Linked DNA regions of Homo sapiens: region 1 is linked to region 2. A link means that fine-mapping ties the variant in region 2 to the plasma level of a protein whose gene starts in the linked region. Region 2 holds a variant in brackets. A gene starts in the other region. All regions are shown on their forward strands. Region 1 holds the start of CD6 (CD6 molecule). Region 2 overlaps EPS15L1 (epidermal growth factor receptor pathway substrate 15 like 1).

The links. A credible set is the group of variants that fine-mapping cannot tell apart. PIP is the posterior inclusion probability: the model's chance that the variant is causal. The UK Biobank Pharma Proteomics Project read protein levels with antibody pairs (Olink). The fine-mapping took linkage between variants from a reference panel, not from the people measured, so its PIPs are less certain.
Region 1: CD6 starts here. The variant in region 2 is the best candidate, but not a certain one, in a credible set for the plasma level of the CD6 protein (UK Biobank, PIP 0.52).

The regions. Positions count from the first base shown.
Region 1 is chr11:60,967,598-60,972,947 of GRCh38, forward strand. CD6 (CD6 molecule) reads left to right here and starts at 4,083. Exons shown (of 13, transcript NM_006725.5): 1 at 4,083-4,317. The coding sequence starts at 4,269.
Region 2 is chr19:16,420,022-16,425,394 of GRCh38, forward strand. EPS15L1 (epidermal growth factor receptor pathway substrate 15 like 1) reads right to left here. Exons shown (of 24, transcript NM_001258374.3): 9 at 5,062-5,295; 10 at 1,298-1,455. Among named protein-coding and RNA genes, the nearest start is that of EPS15L1, 49 kb to the right of the region's middle. RefSeq lists enhancers at 285-888, 889-1,492. The variant C/CT (reference allele first, on the strand shown) is at 2,393.

The DNA of each region.
Region 1 (5,350 bases), not on the chromosome of region 2:
TCCATTTTATTGTTCAACTAGTTTAACATGCATGTTTAATTGAACAAGGTCAAATGCTAGTCAATATTTTGCCCTCCCACCAAATAATAGACCTTTCCCACTCTGATCACTCCTCACCAATTTGTTATTGTTTTATGGTTCTTTAGTTTTATCTCATTTTTTTTTTCTTTTTTAATTTTTTTTTCTTTTTTTTTTTGAGACAGAGTCTCGCTCTGTCGCCCAGGCTGGAGTGCAGTGGTGCAGTCTTGGCTCGCTGCAACCTCCACCTCCCAGTTTCAAGTGATTCTCCTGCCTCAGCCTCCTGCATAGCTGGGACTACAGATGCGAGCCACCACGCCTGGCTAATTTTTGTATTTTTAGTAGAGATGGGGTTTAGCCGTTTTGGCCAAGCTGTTCTCAAACTCATGACCTCAAGTGATCCAACCACCTCAGCCTCCCAAAGTGCTGGGATTACAGGCATGAGCCACCATGTCCAGCCTATTTCATTTTTTTCTAACTCCACAAAGTGGACATTTTTGTAATTATTTTATGCTATCAGTGCTTATTAAATCCACTTCTGTGTTTACATATTTCTTTGCTCACCATTCTTACTTGAATCTTAGACTTTTTTTTCTGAGATTATTTTTCTTGTTTTTGAAGAACATCCTTTAGAATTCCCTTAGGTGAGAGTCTGTTAGCTATAAATGCTCTCAATTTTCATCTGAAAATGTGTCTTTTAAACCTTATACTTGAAAGATAGTCAAGGTTGACAGTTATTTTTTTATTAGTACTTTGAGATGTTGTTCCATCGCCTTCTGGCTTTAGTTATTGGTATTGACATATTAGCTGCCCATCTACTTCATCATTCATCCATCTTCTGTCTAGTGATCAGCAGTTTTGCTACCAAAAATGTTTGGTGTAGATTTCTTTTTATTTATCATGCTTGGGTTGGGGGAGCTTCCAGAATCTGAGGATTGTGTCTTTCATCAAGTCTAGAAATTTTCCATTTTCTTCTAGAACTCTAATTAGACATATTTAAATCCTTGTTCCTTGTCTATGTCTCTTAGCCTCTTTCATATTTTCCACCACTTTGTCCTCCTGTGCTCCATCCTGGGTAAATTCTTCAAATCTATTGTTCACCCCAGTAGTTGTCTCTTCAGCCATATTAATCTGCTGTTTATTTTTATGTATGTATTTATTTATTTATTTTTGAGACAGAGTCTCACTCTCACCCAGGCCGGAGTGCAGTGGCACAATCTCGACTCACTGCAATCTCTGCCTCCTGGGTTCAAGCAATTCTTGTGCTACAGCCTCCTGAGTAGCTGGGACTACAGGCATGTGCCACCTCACCTGGCTAATTTTTGTATTTTTAATAGAGACAGGGTTTCACTGTGTTAGCCAGGCTAGTCTTGAACTCCTGGCCTCAAGCCATCAGACTGCCTTAGCTTCCCAAAGTGCTGAGCCTTAATCTACTGTTTAATCTGTACACTGGGCTTCTATTTTCAAAAATTATGTTTTTACATAACTGCTTGCTTTTTTTCCCTCAATCTTCCTGGTCACTTTAAATAGTCTCTTGTTCCTTATCTATACTTTCAATTACCAACTTTTAATTCTTGAAGCATATGAAACATCCTTATTTTATATTATATATACTGCAATTCCAACATCTGAGATGTGTTCGAAGGTCTGCATTTTTAGTTTATTGCTTGGTGCTCCTCTCACCTAAAGCACCTTGTGTCCTGTGTTTTATGATTTTTCTGTTTTACAAACATGTGAACTCATGTTCCATGGGAGTTTTTCTGTGGGATTTCTTTGAGTCATGAATATAGGATGAGTTACTCCAGAGACAATTTTTATCATTTGTTTCTGCCACGTGCCTAAGGAGCTATTATTTACCTTACTTTAAATTCTTATCTTATCTTTTTGTTTGTTTGTTTTTTGTGTGGTTGTTTTTGCCACAAAGTCACCATGAGTTTCACCTCCAGGCCTATTAGTGGGTAGACTTGTGGTGAGGGGCATTCAGGGTTGACATTTATTTTTCTCCCACTCAGAGTCCATACTGAGTTGGGCAAGCTCTGTGTCAGCTCGCTTTAAGGAATTTTTCTCTCCGAGTTCTCCACTGTGGATGTTGTATTTCAGTGCTCTTTGTTTAAGGCAGAAATTTTGGATTTTGTTTTTCACTTCGATTTTGTTTCTCAGCTTTAACTTTTGTCCATGTTCATAAGACTGAAGCTCTTGGTCAACTGGATCAACAGATACTTCTCTGCTGGCTGTGATCTCTTTGGATTTTTGTTGTCTTTATATATTAACATATACAAGGTCTCACTCTGTTGCCCAGGCTGGAGTACAGCAGTGCAATCTTGGCTTATTAAAGCCTTGACCTCCTGGGCTCAAGCGATCCTCCCACCTCAGCCTCCTGAGTAGCTGAGACCGCAGGTGTGTGCCACCAAACCTGGCTAATTTTTTGCACCTTTTGCAGAGAGAGGGTTTCACCATGTTGCCCAGGCTTATTGTCGTTTTTGATCTCTGATGATTTTCTTCATTTCTCACCACCTCAGCTACACATTTTAAAAGATGGTTTACAATATTTTTGTGGTGTTTTGTATTAGGAGAATTCTTCAGCATCTGCTGTCTACCATATTGTCAGAAATGGAGTCTAGCCATCCTTCCCGGCCCATTTCAAACGGGTTCCTCTTAGGACCAGGAGACCTCACATTATGTGTGTCCTACCTTGGCCTGTGGTTTGGTCACTTGTGTGTGTGTGAACTTCATCCTCCTTGAGGGCAGGAATATGGTTTCCTCTCTTTCACTTCCACAGAGTCCTGTCCAGAGTTCTGCACACCAAGACTGTGTAAATGAATGGAATTGCATCTGGGAGCTCGAGGCACCCATGCAAACCTGTGCTGCCAGTGACTTCCACCAGAGGGCAGCGGCAGCAGGTGCCGGCGCTGGGGCAGGACTGGGAGGAGTCTCACTCTGGGGGCGCCTGGTTCCCCGTGGCTCTAATACTTGCCGCATCAAATGCATACACCCACATTTAGGACCGAACCCAATGGAGGAGGACCGCTCCTCATTCCACATGTTGGGGAAATGAAGACAAGCAAGGATGCAGGAAGTGGAGGGCCAGGAGAGGTGGACCTGGGATGGGACCAATTGAGGCAGGGCCAGGATTTGGAACCAAACCCCTTCTGGATTTGACCACTTCCAGGGCCCTGCTTGGACAACCAAATTATCTATTCCTTTTCTCATTCAATAAACATTTATTCACCTCCTACCATATGCTCCACAGGGAGTACCATGGGAATTAAACACGCTTGGCCCCTGCCTTCTTCCTATAGCGTCAGTCTGCTGCAGTGCAATGGGGCAACTCGGGGTTTCTCAGGCAGCCCTGGGCTTCCTTCCTTCAGCCCTTTGCTCCTGCTATTCCTTCTGGCCCAGAGGCCTCCCATGATTGCTGTTTGTCAAAATCCTGCTCAGCCTTGTAGACCCAGCTCCCATGCCTGACTCCCACGGAGGCATGCCCAGTCTGGTACCTGGAGATGGGATAGCTGGCCCCACTGTGCCATCTGACGGGGCGGCTCCCACAAGGCCTTGGCACCCTTCCCTGTAGAAGGACTTGTGGGATGGCCATCTCTCAGGCCCTTCCCAATTTATATTTCTCTGAGGGGAGACTTAGGCTCTTATCTCCAAAAGTGCATCAAGACCACACCCTCCTTCCCAACCACCATTGCACCTAAGGTTAAGATAAAACTCAGGATTTAATCCAAGAGAGCCAAATTACACGGACCGGGACAGGCAATGGGTCATTCACTCCCTCTTCCAATATGTACTGATTGAGCAGCTACTACATTATCAATTTTTTCTTCTGGGCCACCAGAAATGAGGCATGGCTCTTCCACTTCCCTTCTTCTTAGAAGACCCTCGGGGAAGTGTGTCTGCATGGATGCGTGTGCATGCGTGTGTCTGGCTCCGTGACTCTTGGGGTGCAGCCTGGATGGGTGGGCTCCCAGCACAGGCAGCTGGGGCTCTCCCCACCAGCCCCTGTAACAGCAGCCCAGCTTCCTGCAGACCAAAACCACAAGCAGAACAAGCAGGCGTGAGACACTCACAGGTTGGGTTTGATCGCATGCGTGTCGGAGAGGAGAGAGCAGAGAGAGACACAGGAACAAGAACAGCAAAGGGTAGAGCAGACCTGCGCCAGGGGCGCACAACGGCCGTGTCCACCTCCCGGCCCCAAGATGGTGCTTCCCACAGGCAGCCACGCGTAGCAGCCAGAGACAGCTCCAGACATGTGGCTCTTCTTCGGGATCACTGGATTGCTGACGGCAGCCCTCTCAGGTAGGCCCCCTTCCCTCATCTCCTGCCACTGGTGCTGGAGGAGCCGGGTCCGGCCCTCTCAGTCCCCTTTCTGGTTGTTTCCTTGTGGTCACTTTTCTAGGATCTTTTAGCCAAGACTACACTCAGGTACCAGGGAGGTCCAGCATCTGGGGCTAGGAGAGGACACAGGAGCCCCTCGAGGGGCTGGGGCTGTGCCTGGAAGCCTCCTGGAGTGACAGAATGTGGGAAGCATGCTTTGTGCCTTACCAATGGGTCCCTAGGGTGTGAGGAGGGAGGTGCCTCTCCCATCCTTAAGCTCAGGAACTCCCCCATTTCCTATTTCTTGCCAACTCTTAAGAAGGAACCGTTCACCTTCCAGAGAGGCAGGACCACTGATGGTGGTACTTTCAACGCCAAAGCTGAGGCTTGGGGTCCAGCAGGCGTAGGCCAATCACAGGAGAGCACCTCCCGAAACAGGACTCAGGGAAGCCAGGGAGAGTTCTGGACAACCAGGCGCTGATGGCCTCAGCACAACCAGCTGGGGTAGTCTAGGGCATAAGCGAGCATGAAGGCCACCCCCACGTCTCAAGCTGCCCCCAAGTGTCAAGGCACCTGGCCACCTGGGCCAGGGAATCAGATGGCCAGAAGGTTTGGGGCACTAGACTGTGCTCCCCAGATACTTGCTGGCCCCTGTTGAGTGCAGGGTCCAAGCTGGCCAGAGCGGGGCAGGGGCCTGGAGATGCAAGAGATCCTGACCCCATCGAGCTCTCACATTTTGGGATTTGGGAAGACTGGTATGGAAACAGAATTCGGGCCAGGGGAGTCTGGGTCCACCTTGCAGCCAGAGAGCCAAGTGCTTTCATTTTGTGATGGAGGAGACCCAGGAAGACCCAGTCAGGAGGGGGCATCGAGCTGGTTTGGAGGACTGGGTACATGTCGCGAGACTCTGGGCAGGGAGTGCTCTCCTCTCTGCCTTGATCTCCAGGCATGTGTTCCGAGCCTGTGGCCTCATACTGGTTCAGGGAAAGCCATTCGGCTCTGGGAACTGGAGTTT
Region 2 (5,373 bases):
TGGCAGCCATCGCAGGGAAAAAGCCTCTGTCTTCATGCTCCCCCTCCTCCCAGTCCCTCCTGGTGTGTCATCTACATTGGGCCATGCCCCGCCCCAGCCACTCGCAGACACATCTAGACTTCTTTTCTCATGGTTATTCAAGAGCCTGATCATCCTTTCCTTCCCCTTTGCTGCCCGCATGGAATGACCTCTGAGTTCCTTCTTTTGATCCAGGTGGATTAGTGATTTCCTGTGTCATTTCCATGTCATTACATCATGTGTCAATTGCAGCATGCATTATAAATTACTTTCCCTCTACTGACCCCTAGACATGACAGTCAGGGTGTCAGGGCGCTAACCAGGAACTGTATGTGTGTTGGTTTCAGAGTCATAAAGGGGACACTGTGTTTTGTTGGTTTCTAAAAGGGACACTGGATCTGAGGCAGCTGAGACCCACTGTCCCTAGCCAGTTGGAGGCGGCTTGGCCATTTGGGTGATGACTCTGCGACAGCTAGTTCTCAGGCTCCCACCTCACAGTGTGGTCATCTGTGAATTACCACTAAGGACAGTCATTTCCCCCAAGCCACTAAGTAACATCCTGAATTTCACTGCTCTACTTGGAGGTATTTGCCTCTCGAGAATTATCCAGCAATTCTTTCCTTTTGATAGCTCCCAAGTGAAGCCTTCTCTAAGGCCACAAGGCTCTGAGCAACAAGCTCAAAAGTGACTTCAGCCCTGGCCAGTGGCAAGAGGAGTGCCCCAGCCCTATGAAGTCGGCTGTGTCCAGCCCTGGGGGAAAGAGGGGTTGAGGCCGACTCCTCGACTGGGCTCTGAGGCACTGACAGGGTCTCCTTGTGCTCACCCTCCCGCCAGGAGCCAAAGCACTGGCCTTTCCAGAGCAGGGCCTCCTGCCCCCGCCCTCACCCTGCCAGGCCACTCTGCTAGAGGCTCCAAGGCCCTGCTGCCCGCACCTCCCGGAGGCGGCTGTGACAAAGTCCAGGCCTCCTGTTAGAGCCAGCATCACAGCCAGCAAGAATAGGGCCCAGCTGTGTAAGCAAATGGCCTGGGAGCACTTAAGACGGACCAGAGGCCCTTCCTACTGAAAGACAGTGAACTGACCGTCACGGAGCGCGGGCTTCGAGCCTTGGCACGTGCACCTTGCTCAGCCTCTGTCAGGCCAGGGAGAATAAAGGACGCCAGACACAGCGGAAGCCTGTGACAGGCTGGAGGGGGCCCCCTGACCACCACCCTCCACAGTCTTCACCCACAGGCCCCCTGGAGCCACCCACAGCCACAACTGCCACCTGTCCGGCCTTACCATATGTGTGCTAGAAGGTTCTGGGTGAGGCCCGAGTGCATGAAGATCTCCTTCACCTCCTGGCCACTCACGTAGCCATCCAGGTCCAGGTCGGTCTTCAGGAATATCTCATCAAATCGCATCTTGTCTGCCACGGGCACCACCCAGTTCACTGTTGGCTGAAACAGTTTTTGGCAAAACAGTTAATCTGGAAGCTTTTTATGACCCCCAGACACATGCTTTTTGATGATGGGGCGATTAAAGCACTTCCATGCACATTTGGCATCAAACTCTCCTCACTTCCATGAGCCAAGAGGGCAGATGTGATCCTTGTTCTGTAACTGGCAAAACTGAGGCTGAGACAGGTTGAGGCTGGCTCTGTGAAGCTCACCCAGATGCCAGTCTGCACCTCTCTCCACCCCATCACCCGCTCTCCTTGTCCATCCACCCTGCCACCCAGGGTGTGAGGGAGGCTGTGATCTTCAGGGGATGGGTTCAAGCATGCCAGGAAAGACCCTCCCGAGCACCCACTTGGAAGGACCGTCCCTGGAGAACCGGCCCGGCCACATGCCAGCCTCCCTGGTCCTCCCACTCCTCAGCCCGCAAAGGCTGCCCTACAGGCAGCCAAAGTGTCCTGTCCCAGGACTCTGAAGACCACCCTTCTATGTCCCTGCCCCACTCCTGAGACAACAAAGATACCCCCAAGGTGTGAGTACACACACGTCACTGACAGGTAACAAATGAGACACCACCATCCAAGAGGGCCACCACCCACGAGGCCCCACCAACATTCATGCAGCCCCAACCCCACCAGGGCAGATGGAGCCACGAGCCCAGTGCAGCTCAAAGTTCACAGCCCTGGGGCTGGGTCACCCGCTGCACGTGCGACCCCTCTCGCCACCAGCTCACAGTTAACTTGAGAGAGGCAAACGCCATCATGGGTCAACCAGGGCCCGGTCACCTCCTGGTTCAGAGGCATTGAGGCCCCTCAGGCACTCAGGGGCAGGCCCCTTCCGTGGCCTACTCCACCTGCATTACCGCGGGCCTTCAATACACCCACCACGCCACAGTTCACGGCATCTGTGTCCTGAACTCTAGACGTGCTTTTCCTCTTCC[C/CT]TTTTTTTTTAAATATTTACACAAATCACTCCTTTTAAACAATCTCATAATAGCAATGAGAATAAACACCTGATTGAATTATCTAGATGATGAGGGAGTGGAGAGAAAAAGGACAGGCAAATGTGGCTGGAGGGATCGATTGTTCCTTCTCCACGCAGCAACTGTACAGAAAAGCCACTCCACTCCTCACCTTCAATGAACGCCATGATGCCTGAAACTGCCACTCAAAGTCATTCCTCTCAGTTATGAAAGGATTTCTTAGGCTGGGTGCAGTGGCTCACACCTATAATCCCAGCACTTTGGGAGGCTGAGGTGGGTGGATCACCTGAGGCCAGGAGTTTGAGACCAGATTGGCCAACATGGTGAAACCCCCTCTCTACTAAAAACACGAAAAATTAGCCAGGTGTGGTGGTAGGCACCTGTGATCCCAGCTACTCAGGAGGCTGAGGCAGGAGAATTGCTTGAACCTGGGAGGCAGAAGTTGCAGGGAGCTGAGATTGTGCCACTGCACTCCAGCCTGGGCGACAGAGCAAGACTCCGTCTCGGGGAAAAAAAAAGGGGGGGGGGATTTCTCAAAGAGTTCTCACAGTGTTGACAACCCGAAGATGTCCATAGGATTGAGGAGAAGGGACTCATGGTCAAGACTGGGAAACAATGGTTAAACTCGTTTACTCTTCATGAACGAGTCTCCTGTGATGTCCAAATCTAACAGGCTCCTGATACCAACTCAGGGAAATCAGAAAGCAAGCTTGGGAAACAAGGGATACCATGTGACCCAGATCAGCTTAGTTCAGGGGTTTCACGTAGCAAGTATGTGTGATGAAGTACAGCAAGGACTTGATCAAACAATTTATCAAAATCCATGGAGCTAGGCCAGGCACAGTGCTCATGCCTGTAATCTCAGCACTTTGGGAGGCCAAGGCAGGAGGATCCCTCAAGCCCAGGAGTTCAAGACCAGCCAGCATAACACAGCAAGACCCCATCTCTACAAAATAAATAAATAAATAAAATTAGCTAGGTGTGGTGGCATCCACCTATTCCAGCTACTAGGGAGGCTGAGGTGGAAGGATCACTTGAGCCCAGGAGGTTGAGATAGCAATGAGCCGTGATTGCACCACTGCACTCCAGCCAGGGCAGCAGAGCAAGATCCTGTCTCTTATATATTTAAAAAAAAAAAATCTATGGATCTAATTCAAATGATGAGAGTTCAGATGGCAAGAGCAACCTGATTTTTACTTGTGGCATTGTACTGTGTAAATTTTGTGAGCCTTCTCAAGTCTGGTGGACGTAAAGATGCCAATAAAGGAATTCTAATGAGAAATGGGCTTGCTGCCTTTTAAGTCACGGAGCTACAGCAAGCTAACCTCAGAAGCCAGGGATCACAAAGAGGTAACAGGAGTCAGACAAGCTGAGCTGTGGCGGGACACAGAAACAAGGGGGGTTCTGTGTCCCACGGGTCCCAAGAAGAAATTACGTATGAAATTATAGCTCTGGGATGACAAGAGTCCTAATAATACTTGCTGGGCAAACAAAAGGAACTCACTGCCTGATTTCTGGAGCCTCAGAGTATGTTAGCAGCAAGATTCTGATGCCAAATTGACTATAAACCCAACACGGGGCAGCCTTGCCGTGGAGCTGGCTCTCCCAGTGACAGCTGGGCTTTAAGGCCGGCTCAGCAGCCACAGGTCCCAAAGGAAGGATATCAGACCCTGGTGGCTGGAAGTGGCTTCACTCAAACCTGGCATGAGGGCAAAATCGGGTGGCCCTTGGGAGGCCCAGACAAGAGCATTGCTGGCCTGGAGATGAGGAAGTTGGAGTAGGGGGAGCATGTGGACTGTAGGCCCCCAGAAATGCTCGTTTTCATGACTGTGATCCTACCAATGCCGTCGTGGGGGCAGGAGCTATACCCTCCCACCCCACCCCACCAGGGGCCACTGGTAAAATCGGTCTAGTCAGAGGGTCTTGAGAGAACCACCAGAAGATCACTAGAGAGGTGGGTTATGACGCTGGGTGACCTGTGCCTACCAGTGAGTTTGGCCCCACTAGCTTCGTTGCCAGTAAAGTACCTCCCCTAACCTGACTTTCAAAACTCTTGGCAAGAGCTCTGCAGACACAGGCTGGGCACGGTGGCTCACACCTGTAATCCCAGCACTTTGGGAGGCCGAGGCAGGAGGATCACTTGAGCCAAGGAGTTCAAGACCAGCCTGAGTAACATAGGGGAGACCATGTTGAAATAATGAGATAAATGAATACTTTTTTTTTTTGAGATAGAGTTTCGCTCTTGTTGCCCAGGCTGGAGTGCAGTGGCGCGCTCTCAGCTCACTGCAACCTCCGTCTCCCAGGTTCAAGCAATTCTCCTGCCTCAGCCTCCCGAGTGGCTGGGATTACAGGTGCGCACCACCACACCCAGCTAATTTTTTTGTATTTTTAGTAGAGACGGGGTTTCACCATGTTGGCCAGGATGGTCTTGATCTCCTAACCTTGAGATCTGCCCACCTCGGCCTCCCAAAGTGCTGGGATTACAGGCGTGAGCCACCGCACCTGGCCACAAGCATTTTTTAAAGACATTTCATCACAAGCTTGACCGTTCTGGGGTTGCATGTTAAGAACTCCCGAGAAACATCCTACTGTGCTCTGAGAGGGGGCTGTGCCCGCTGAGGGCTCCGTACCTGTGTTTGCTTGAGGCTGTGCTTGGGGGACAGGCTCCCTGTGCTGTTGAGGCTGCTGACGCTGCCGTGGGACGGCGTGGAGCGGAGGCTGTCTTTTGGTGGGGGGCTGGCAGGCAGGACGGGGACGGCGCCAGGGAACACAGTCTTCTTTCTCTTGGAGGGTGGGATGAGGGACGGGGGCAGGGCGGAGGGCACGGGCTCCTTCTCCAGGGCTCGGTACACCAAGTGCATGGCCTGCAGGTGCAAACAACAATGGCACTGAAGGGGCAAGGCTGGGGCCGGGACCATCAGGAGAAGGCAGAGGGCAGCCCT